Homo sapiens: one gene and its partners. The protein of the gene in region 1 interacts with the protein of each later gene in a biochemical or structural test. Each region holds a gene or a part of one and is shown in the gene's direction. Other genes may lie near its edges. The genes, in order: SARNP, DAPK1 and ESR1.

What was found.
Region 2: the proteins of SARNP (region 1) and DAPK1 form a complex in vitro, tested with the Homo sapiens proteins (one large-scale study listed by BioGRID and IntAct).
Region 3: the proteins of SARNP (region 1) and ESR1 form a complex in vitro, tested with the Homo sapiens proteins (one large-scale study listed by BioGRID).

The regions. Positions count from the first base shown.
Region 1 is NC_000012.12:55,807,628-55,811,281, reverse strand, and holds part of SARNP (SAP domain-containing ribonucleoprotein), read left to right. Parts: intron 1-3,654. UniProt on the Homo sapiens protein: Binds both single-stranded and double-stranded DNA with higher affinity for the single-stranded form. Specifically binds to scaffold/matrix attachment region DNA. Also binds single-stranded RNA. Enhances RNA unwinding activity of DDX39A.
Region 2 is NC_000009.12:87,700,316-87,703,969, forward strand, and holds part of DAPK1 (death-associated protein kinase 1), read left to right. Parts: intron 1-2,713; coding exon 2,714-2,902; intron 2,903-3,654. UniProt on the Homo sapiens protein: Calcium/calmodulin-dependent serine/threonine kinase involved in multiple cellular signaling pathways that trigger cell survival, apoptosis, and autophagy.
Region 3 is NC_000006.12:151,838,621-151,842,274, forward strand, and holds part of ESR1 (estrogen receptor), read left to right. Parts: intron 1-3,654.

The DNA.
Region 1 (3,654 bases):
CCTGGCCAAGCTGTGTGATATTTAAGCAAGTTATTGAATTTCTTTAAGCCTAATTGTAATACCAACCACTTAGGTTCCTTGTAAGGATTTTGAGTTCCCATCATATATGTTATAGGTGGTCTAAAACATCTCTGCCTTCAAAGAATTTACAAACTATATGTTGACATAACATGAAAAAGATGATTTCTTTTTTTTTTTTTGGGATGGAGTCTCGCTCTGTCACCCAGGCTGGAGTGCAGTGGCGTGGTCTTGGCTTGGCTCACTGCAACCTCTGCCTCCCGGGCTCAAGCCCTTCTCCTGCCTCAGCCTCCCGAGTAGCTGGGATTACAGGTGCCTGCCACCACGTCTGGCTAATTTTTGTATTTTTAGTAGAGACAGAGTTTCACCATGTTGGCCAGGCTGGTCTTGAACTCCTGACCTCAGGTGATCCGCCCGCCTCGGACTCCCAAAGTGTTGGGATTACAGGCGTGAGCCACCGCGCCTGGCCAACGTGAAAAAGATTTCTGATAAAATATTTTAATCAAAATTTGGCCGGGTGTGGTAGCTCATGCCTGTAATCCCAGCCCTTTGAGAGGCCGAGGCGGGAAGATCACCTGAGGTCAGGAGTTCAAGACCAGCCTGACCAACATGGTGAAATCCCATCTCTTCTAAAAAATACAAAATTAGCTGGGCATGGTGGTGCACGCCTGTAATTCCAGCTACTGGAGAGGCTGAAGCAGGAGAATCGCTTGAACTGGAGAGACGGAGGTTGCAGTGAGCCGAGATTGTGCCACTGTACTCCAGCCTGAGTGACAAGAGTGAAACTGAGTCTCAAAAAAAAAAAAAAAAAATTCAAGGTCAGTTAACTAGAAGAAATCACAGGGCAAGCTGGGCACAGTGGCTCACGCCTATAATCCTAACCAACACTTTGGGAGGCTGAGGCAGGAGGATCACTTGAGCCCAGGAGTTTAAGAACAGCCTGGGCAACATAGTGAGACCTCATCTCTACTGGAAATAAAAAAATTAGCTGGCTGTGGTGGCACACACCTGTGGTCCCAGCTATACAGGAGGCTGAGGCAGGAGGATCATTTGAACCCAGGAGGTCGAGGCTGCAGTGAGCTGCGATTGCACTGCTGCATTCCAGTCTGGGCAACAGAGCAAAACCCTGAGTCAAAATAAAAATAAATAGAAATCACAGGGCAATGCATGATTAATGTCAAATGTATGATGAGGGTAAGTTGATATGTCTTTTCTCTGTGGGTTGGATAGGTAGAATGGAGAATGCTTTATTGATACTGAAAAATAAGATTTAAAAAACTTTTTGAATAGGTAATCATGCACAAGTTCACAAAAGAGTATATGGTAAAAAGTTTCTTTCCTACACTTTTCCCAAACTAGCTTCCTCTTCTCAGATTCAACCAGTGTTAACTTACCTGTTTCTTCTCCAGGCATCTTGTTTATACACATTATACAGAGATGTGTGTGTATTATTTTTTACATTAATGTTAGTATCCTTATAGAATGTTCTATAACTCTTTTCTTTTTTTTTTTTGTTTTTTGAGACAGGGTCTCCCTTCTGTCGCCCAGGCTGGAGTGCAGTGGTGTGATCATGGCTTACTGCAGCCTCAACCTCCTGGACTCAAGTGATGCCCCTGCCTTAGCCTCCCGAGTAGCTAGGACTACAAGTGTGCCTGGCTAGTTTTTTGTTTTTTGAGAGACAGGGTCTCACTGTGTTGCCCAGGCTGGTCTTGAACTCCTAGGCTCAAGTGATCCTCCTGCGTCGACCTCCCAAAGTACTAGGATGACAGATGTGAATCACTGTGCCTACCTAGCTGGTTTTTTTTGTTTATTTTCTTCTTGGGACAGGGTCTTACTGTGTTGCCCAGGCTGGAGTGCAGTGGCATGATCATGGCTCATTGCAGCCTCAGCCTCCCAGACCCAAGTGATCTTTCCATCTCAGCCACCTGAGTAGCTGGGACTGTAGGCACATGCGACTATGCTCGGCTAATTTTTTTTTTTCAATAGCCTTACTGAGATACAATTCACGTACCATACAATTCATTCAGTATACTTGTTAAAATATTTTTTGTTTGTTTTGAGATAGGGTCTCCCTTTGTTACCCAGGCTGGAGTGCAGTGGCATGATCTCGGCTCACTGCAGCCTCGACTTCCTGGACTCAGGCCATCCTCCAGCTTTAGCCCCTCAAGTAGCTGGGACTACAGGCACATGCCACCATGCCTGGCTGTTTTTGTATTTTTAGTAGAGATGGGATTTCAACATATTGTCCAGGCTGGTCTCGAACTCCTGGACTCAAGTGATCTGCCCACCTCTAGCCTCCCAAAGTGTTGGAGCCAAAACATTTCAAATCAAATCAAATCAATTTAGAAAAATGGGATAAGATTTTATGTTAGTTCCTATTTTAAGTTTTAAAAGGTTTTAGTTCTGCTAATGTAATTGTGCTGAAATACGTGCAAAAAGAAATTACATCATTTTCAGCTGTTTTATGTTTTTATTCATCTGTTTCTCATTCATTCATTCTTTTGAGGCCAGGTATTGCTGTGTTGCCCAGGCTGGAGTACAGTGGTGTGATCACAGTTCATAGCAGCCTTGACCTCCCAGGTTCAAGCGTTCCTCCCACCTCAGCTTCCCTAGTAGCTGGGACCACAGGCGTGTGCTACCTTGTGTGACTAATTAAAAAAAAAATTTGGCTGGGCGTGGTGGCTCATGTCTGTAATCCCAGCACTTTGGGAGGCCGAGGCGGGTGGATCACCTGAGGTCGAGAGTTCGAGACTAGCCTGACCAACATGGGAAAACACTAAATTAGCCAGGCATGGTGGCGCGTGTGTGTAATCCCAGCTACTCGGGAGGCTGAGGCAGAATTGCTTGAACTCGGGAGGTGGAGGTTGCGGTGAGCCAAGATCACGCCATTGCACTCCAGCCTGGGCAGCAAGAGTGAAACTCCATCTCAAAAAAAAAAAAATTGTAGGAACAGGGTCTCACTCTGTTGCCCAGGCTGTTCTTGAACTCCGGGGCTCAAAGCTGTCCTCCTGCCTCAGCCTTCCAACTTGCAGGGACTACAGGCATGAGCCACCATGCCCAGCCTCTATTTTCCTTTTAAAATAATGTCTATTTTCCTTTTAAAATAACGTCCTAGTATATGAGAAGAACTCACTATATAACAAAAGAAGTAATACAACTATGTAAAAGCTGTGTGTAGGCTGGGCACAGTGGCTCACGCCTCACTACAAATGATATATGTAAATGTTAAGTGATCTGTAAGTGCTGGGATTACATACGACTTTTATTTTCCTCTAAACTTTTCAGAATTTTCTAACTATTCTACAGTGAACATAATACTTTTATAACAAACAAAAAATTTAAAGTGTAATTAAGATCAAAAGACTTGTTCTCCAGGAAGTGGGAAGAAAATAATGTATCAGTGTGAGAAAGATCAAGATTCTTAAAAAAAATTTTTTTTTTTTTTTTTTTGAGACAAAGTCTCGCTCTGTCACCCCGGTGGAAGTACAGTGGCACGATCTCGGCTCACTGCAAGCTCCGCCTCCCGGGTTCACGCCGTTCTCCTGCCTCAGCCTCCTGAGGAGCTGGGACTACAGGCGCCCGCCACCGCGCCCGGCTAATTTTTTTTTTTTTTTTTTGTATTTTTAGTAGAGACGG
Region 2 (3,654 bases), on another chromosome or scaffold:
TAGTAGGACCCAGTAAGAGGTGTCTGCCTGGACATGTCTTTATCCTAGTGCCCTGGGAAAAGAAAGGAAGAATAGAGAAACAAGGAGATGATGGGAGCTGAAGGGTTATTATGGGCAAGGTGGACCACTTCAATTTTATGAAATTCTTACCGATTTATTGGTTTCTTTAACAATATTTTATTTATTTATTTTATTTTTTCAGAGACAGGATCTCACACTGTCATCCAGGCTGGAGTACAGTGGTGTGATCATAGCTCACCGTAACCTTGAACTCCAGGGCTCAAGCAATCTGTCCATCTCAGCCTCCCAAGTAGCTAGGACTATAGGCACGCACCACCATGTCTGGCTAATTTTTTTGATTTTTTGGTAGAGACAGGGTCTTACTATGTTGCCCAGGCTGGTCTCGAACTCCTAGGCTCAGGTGCTCCTCCCACCTCAGCCTCCCAAAGTGCTGAGATTACAGGTGTGAGCCACCATGCCTGGCCAATTTTGGGAAAAAACCAAAAAATTCAAAAGTGACTTATTGTGGAATATTTAGAAAATTCAGAAAAGTAGAAAAACAGTCACAAACTTTTTTGAAAGACAGAAAAGAATAAATGAACAAAGGGAATGAGACTGTATTCTTGGGTTGCAAGATATGACTATTTTATTTTTCCCTAGTTATATAAATGTAATACAATTTCAGTTAGCATCTGAATGGGTTGAGGGGATTGGGATTTTTATCTTAAAATTTCCATGGAAAAATTCATTAAACCTATTATAAAGCCCCTGATAATCAATACAGTTAAATAGGAGGAAAAGCTTAGAGGGTATAGAAGTAAATCATAATATCTTTAGAAATATAATGGAAAATAAATATGTCATTTGAATTTAATGGGGTAAAGATTATTTAATAAATGAACCTGGCACAACTGGCTATTTGTCTGGAAGGAAATAAAGTTGGATTCCTACACCCTACAAAGTCCAAAAATAAATGGATTAAAGCTTTTAAGTAAAAACATGAAACAATAAATACCTTGAATAGAAATTGTGGAGAGTGTATTTTCAAAATAACTAGGGACTGAGGGAACCTGTTAAACCAAGATCTAAAACCCTAGAAATTTTAAAAGAAAATATACCTGTTTGAAAATGTAAAAATTTTTAAAATTTTTTTCTAGCAAACAAATTAAGTAAACAAAGTTGAAAGGTGAAATAGGCTGGGAAAAAGCATTCTCAATGCTTTGGACAGATAAATGGTCACACCGTAATGTTCAAAAAGCTCTCCGGAATTGGTAAGAAAAGGGCGAGCGTCCCAGTGGAGAAGTGGTGGCATTCACTCTGGAGTCTTCCTGCTGCCGAGGCCTGAGGACAAATGCGGGCAGATGCCTGTCTCCCTCTCTTACCTTTGAAGCTGCCTCTGGGTGTATTTTTTTTTTTTTTTTTTAACTGCTTTGCTAATAAGAAAATGCTGTGCTTCCCGCACCAGATTCTGGTTCTAGATGTGCTTCCAGAATTCTCGGGAAACCCTTTCCTGTCTCCAGAAAACCCTGCCCTTCACACCAGATATCCTCGTTGGGGTCCCACTGTGGCATCATCAGAAGATAGGGGGTAGTCCGGTGAGGCCTGGGAGGAATCTGTCACAGAAACCAGGGGCGGTGATCTGGGAACTAACAGTGGTCTCTGAGGGCCCCTGTGCTTCCCCACCAGGTCTGGATTGAGGCTGCATTCCTGAGGCAGGAGGGAGTGTCCCTGGAGATTTTTGAGCTGGGCTCTGGCATGATCTGCTGCTTCTCAGACACCCCCCGCCCAACCCCTAAACTCCTGAGCTCAGGCAGGTGGAGCCCACCACATCAACTGCACTCACCCCTGAGAATTTTGTTTTTGAATGCAGAGTGGAATTTAGCTGACACAAAAGAATTTGAGAGGGGAGTGCGGAATTAATGGCACGGTGTAGCCTGTGGCTTATGTGGTTTCTAATTCAGAGGTATGTGGATTACGTGAGTCTGTAACATATGCTGATCTAATTAACCAAGTTAAAAGGTTAAAAATCCACTTCAGCCTACATACCAAGAATGGGTCTAATTGGAAACAATATTTCAACAACAGTCCCCACGAATGCCTAATTTACTGGTAAACACTCACTCTAATATTGATGATGATACTCATTCTCTTTTCCTCTGTTCATAAAGTGATCATTGCCTGAGTGAAACAGTCACGAGAGAGAGAGCGAGGGAAGAAAGGAGGGAGGGAGGAAAAAGTGAGGGAGTGAAACATTAGGAGTTGGTGAACATTAGTTGATTGAGTGACTGAGTCCACAATTCCAAAAACGTTCCTAGAAGACTCAAAATCTATTTAACATGAACTAAAGAGCCTTTATAAAACTTTATATTTGAGCAATAGATGAGGCTTAAAAGCAAGTCTAAAAGACAACTGCCCCAGTACTCAACCCAAAAAACACAAACTAGCCAGACACAGTGGTGTGTACTTGTAGTCGGAGCTACTCAGGAGACTGAGACAAGAGGATTACTTGAGCCCAAGGGTTTGAGACCAGCCTGGGCAATAGCGAGACCCAGTCTAAAAAAAGAAAAAAAAACGTCAACAACAACAAAAAAACCCACTCGTTCATCAAATCACCTGCAAGGCGCCTGAATGAAAGGTGTCCTTTCCACTGTGGCTCTGCTCAGGGCACCCACAGCTGCAGGTGAGTTAACCTGTCTGGCCCTGCCCCCTCTAGGTCTGTCCTCCCATGACTCACCTGTGTGAGAAAATCATCTCCACGCTGCCTTCCTGGAGGAAGCTCAATGGACCCAACCAGCTGATGTCGCTGCAGCAGTTTGTGTACGACGTGCAGGACCAGCTGAACCCCCTGGCCAGCGAGGAGGACCTCAGGCGCATTGCTCAGCAGCTCCACAGCACAGGCGAGGTGAGCCCCTGGGAGCCCAGGCAGGGGGCCGTGAGAGGTGCCAGGGACTCAGCCTGTCCCAAATTCCAGCTCTTGGAAGTGGTGTGAGCCTGGGGAAGCAGTGTGGAAATGGTCCAGCTAACCTACAACATTTCCACACGTGTGACAAACACAGCCTCAAGTGACGCTCTGAACTGCAGTTCTCGGCTCACCTTAGGAGCTGTCATTTTGTCTTGTCGTGTTTTGCTTTTATTTCCAGAGTCTGTTAGTTTGGGAGTGCAGTGCCCACTGCCCTGGGTGACTGGGTCTCTCTTCACTCCCCCTGGGCACCAGGAACTTAATCTGCTACTCCTGGCAGCCTTCAGGATGGCTTCTTTGTATCAGCGTGGAGTCATCAGCTCCACACAGATCTCCTGGGTGGGAAAACAGTTGAGAAAAGGCAGTGAGGTGTCCTTGTGGAGGCAATGTCTGGAGATACAAAGACAGAGAACTCTGGTGCACAGATACACAGAGTAATCATAATTAAAGATGCACATTAAAAAACTCTAGCAAGCAATGCCCAGCAGAAATGATTGAGAATGGGAGGCTTTGCTCTGGTTCTGTGACATTGAGCACCAGGGCGCGGTTTGGAAACCCTGTTCTAATGGCATCATATGCCTGTCCCAGGAACGGGGGCAGTGCCTTCGTGTTTCTCCACCATGTGAAATTGGGAGCCTACATGAACTAGTGTGGGCCAAGAAGAGCGGTTCTGAATATTGCAACTAAAAGCAGCT
Region 3 (3,654 bases), on another chromosome or scaffold:
ACCGCTCTTGCCTTTTAGTTTATATTCTTTGTTTTTTTTTAAATAACATTTTGACAGTCTTTATGGAGTAAGTCTGGGCCAAAATGATAATTGACAATGTTATTTACATGGATTTCTAAGTTGGCTAAAAAAGTTCCTTTATGGTTAGTGAATATAGCCCATGTAGTTTCCCCGTCTTCTTTAGATGCCTTCTATTTCTATGCCCAAAGTCTGCAGTTGATTTTCAGTAAGCTGGGGGTCATCTTAGAGATAAAATGTAGATGAATGGCATTTTGCTGACAGCATACATCTTTGCTATTTCTGAGGAAAATGGGCTCTCGCTATTAAATCTTTTGTCAATATTTATAAAAATAGTATTTACATATTCTATCTATATTGTGGAAACTATACATTTATTGATTCAGTCATTTGATATCAATGTTGTTGAGTCCCTATTCCAAGTGAGGCACTATGCTCTAAGCACATGGCATTTTAAAGATGAATAAGACACCAAGAACTTTGCAGATAGTAATGGAAATGAGAATTAATCAATTGAAGATTAATATAGTAAGTAGCAGAAGAGAAATAAAAAAATCTTCTAGAGAGTTCAGAACAGGGATGTTGATTCAAGTTTATGGGGATTAGGAGTGGCTGGTAAGGGAGGCATTCAGGCAAAAGACATAAAAATGCAGTATTCCCCTCGCACTCATTAGGATGGCTACTATATTAGAAAAAGAAGAGAGTAAGTGTTGGAGAGGATATAGAGCAAATAGAAACCTTGTGCCTTGTTCATGAGAATGTAAAATGGTGCAGCCACTGTGGAAAACACTGGTGATTCCTCAAAAAATCAAAATAGAATTATCATATGATCCAGTAATTCTACTTCTGGGTATATATCTAAAAGAATTAAAAATCTGGGTCTTGAAGAAATATTTGTATACTCATAGTTATAGCAACATTATTCATAATAGCCAAAAAGTAGAAGCAATCCAGATGTCTATAGATGGATGAATGGGTAAACAAAGTCTGTGTAGTATATACAGACAATGGCATATTAGTCACATCATGGACCTTCAGGACATTATCCTAAGTGAAATATGCTAGACACAAAAAGCAAAAGTAGGGTTTCACTTAATGAGGTATCTAGAATTGCCACATTCACAGAGAACAAAAGTAGATTGGTGGCTGCTAGGGGATAGGGGAAGGAGAAAATGGGGAATTATTGTTGAATGGGTATGGAGTTTCAGTTTTGTGAAATGAAAATGTTCTGAAGACTGGTTGCACGATGATGTGAGTATATCTAACATGATTGAATTGATGAACACTTAAGCGTGGTTACGATGGTAAATTTTGTGTTATATATATCTTACCACAATTTAAAAAATATAGCATTTTATTATGTAGGCGTGGGTGGGAAGATACTTGACACATTGGAACTTCTGGCCATGCGTATACTGTTCACTCACTTATTCCTTCATTCATTCAACAAACATGTATTGAATGCTTGCTATGTGCTGGGCACTGAGCTAGATATAACAATTAATAAGGCTTATAAGACATTGAATCTATCAATTTCATGCTTGCTAAATATCTACTCCCACCTCCAAAGGCACTAAGCTTCTACAGTTAGATATTCATAGCTGCTTCCTACTGACTTGAATCATGCATAGGATATTAGTAAACAAGCAATAAAAAGATTTGAGGTTGATGGGGGTGGGTTCAACAGCATGGTGGTGAAATGGAAAGAGATGGGTAACAGAATATGAACTAGAATTGAAAACTGTGAGCCAGTGCTCTCTAATGAACATTAAAAAATAAAGAATTCCTATTTGAGGCTGCCAACCTCAGAACTAAGTTATTTAGAATGGACGAAATTGGCAAAGTCAGACGTACTCAACCCAAGGAGCCAATATTTTGTGAATATTATGGCAAATGTAGTTTGAGAACCACTACCACAAAATTGTGAACCATAATAATGACTGAGAAGGCAGGGAGAGGTTATACAATTTGGGCTAAAAGGAAAGACAGGGCTTGTGAAGGGGAGCGCCAGTGAAAGTCAGTGTGGTTCGGGTATTTGGGTGGGGACTGGAAGCAGGAAGCTTGAGCTTCCTTTGCCAAGAGACCCTGCTGGAAGGGCTATCATCAATTGACTTTAGCTCATCTTAGGATTTTCATTTTTTAAAAAATGTTCACAGGAACCTTCACTCCATCTATACTTTCAATGTCTGCCTACCTTTCTTTCTTATACAACTTTGAACACTCTCTCCATTCATTTAAATATATTATGGAGTGCCAACTACATGCCAGGTACTGTGCTGGGCTCTTATTCCACCTTTATTTGATTGCACATGCCTGCCAAGTCCTGGGCCAATATAACATCTACTCCTATGTCTGGTCTGGCGAGAGATGCAAACTCATCTTCCTCTACTTTCCTTACCTCCTTCCTTCCAGTCTTCTTCAAGTTGTCTTCATTGAGGCAATTTCTTTTACCTGTGTTTTTAATCCCAACTCCTCTAGTTTCCTTCTTGGCTTTATTCTTTTATCTTCCTCTTTGTGCTTTCAAACATTCCCTTTCTCCTGGCCCATGCCCTTCAGTCTACACGAGGCCTTCTCAAGTCTCTTCATTCTAAAAAATTCATTTTCTTGGGTCTTATATTCTTCAGCTGCCACCCTATCTGTATCTTTTCCTATTCTCCTCCAAGTTCTCAAAGGAATGCCTTCCCTCATTTTCATCTCCTTACATTCCATCTGCTGAATTTTGGCTTGTGCCTGTACCTGTCTAAGGAAACTCCTTGCTAAGAGTCTGCTTTGTCAGGTCTGAATTCACTTAACCAGTCTTTGCTTTGTTGGACTTCTCTGCCCCATTTGCCATTCTTGATCATCCTCTCCATAAACCTTTCTACTTAAAGCATTTTACTTCCTTATTTTCTTGGTTTTCCTAGAATCTCCTTACTGTTCATTTTCAGCTTCCTTTCTGTGTTCCTCTTCTCTTCCTACATTTTTTTTTAGCTTTCTACTTTCTTAAAGCATTTTACTTCCTTATTTTCTTGGTTTTCCTAGAATTTTCTTACTGTTCATTTTCAGTTTCCTTTCTGTGTTCCTCTGATTGTCTCTCTTTCTACATTTTTTTTTTCTGTGTTCCTCTGATTTTCACGCAGTCTGGAGTTGTCATGATCAATCATAGCCTACTGCAGCCTCGACATCCTAGGCTCAAGTGATTCTCCCACCTCAGCCTTACAAGTAGCTAGGACTACAGTCACACATCACCATTCTCAGCTAATTTTTTTAAGAAGCATTTTTATAGAGATGGAGTCTTGCTATATTGTGCAGGCTGGGCTCAAACTACAGGGCTTAAACAATTCTCCTGCTTTGGCCTCCCAAAGTGCTGGGATTCCAGGCATGAACCACCATGCTCAGTCTCTACATGTTCCTAAAGAGGAGTTTTGAATATTGAAGAACAGTATTTTCAAATTACATTATTCAAGTTATAAAAACTGATATCCAGGGTTATGTGGCAATGACGTAAAAATTTGAATTGTTATTTTTTTGACACATGTTCTGTGTTGTCCATCAGTTCATCTGAGTTCCAAATGTCCCAGCTGTTTTATGCTTTGTCTCTGTTTCCCAGAGACCCTGAGTGTGGTCTAGAGTTGGGATGAGCATTGGTCTCTAATG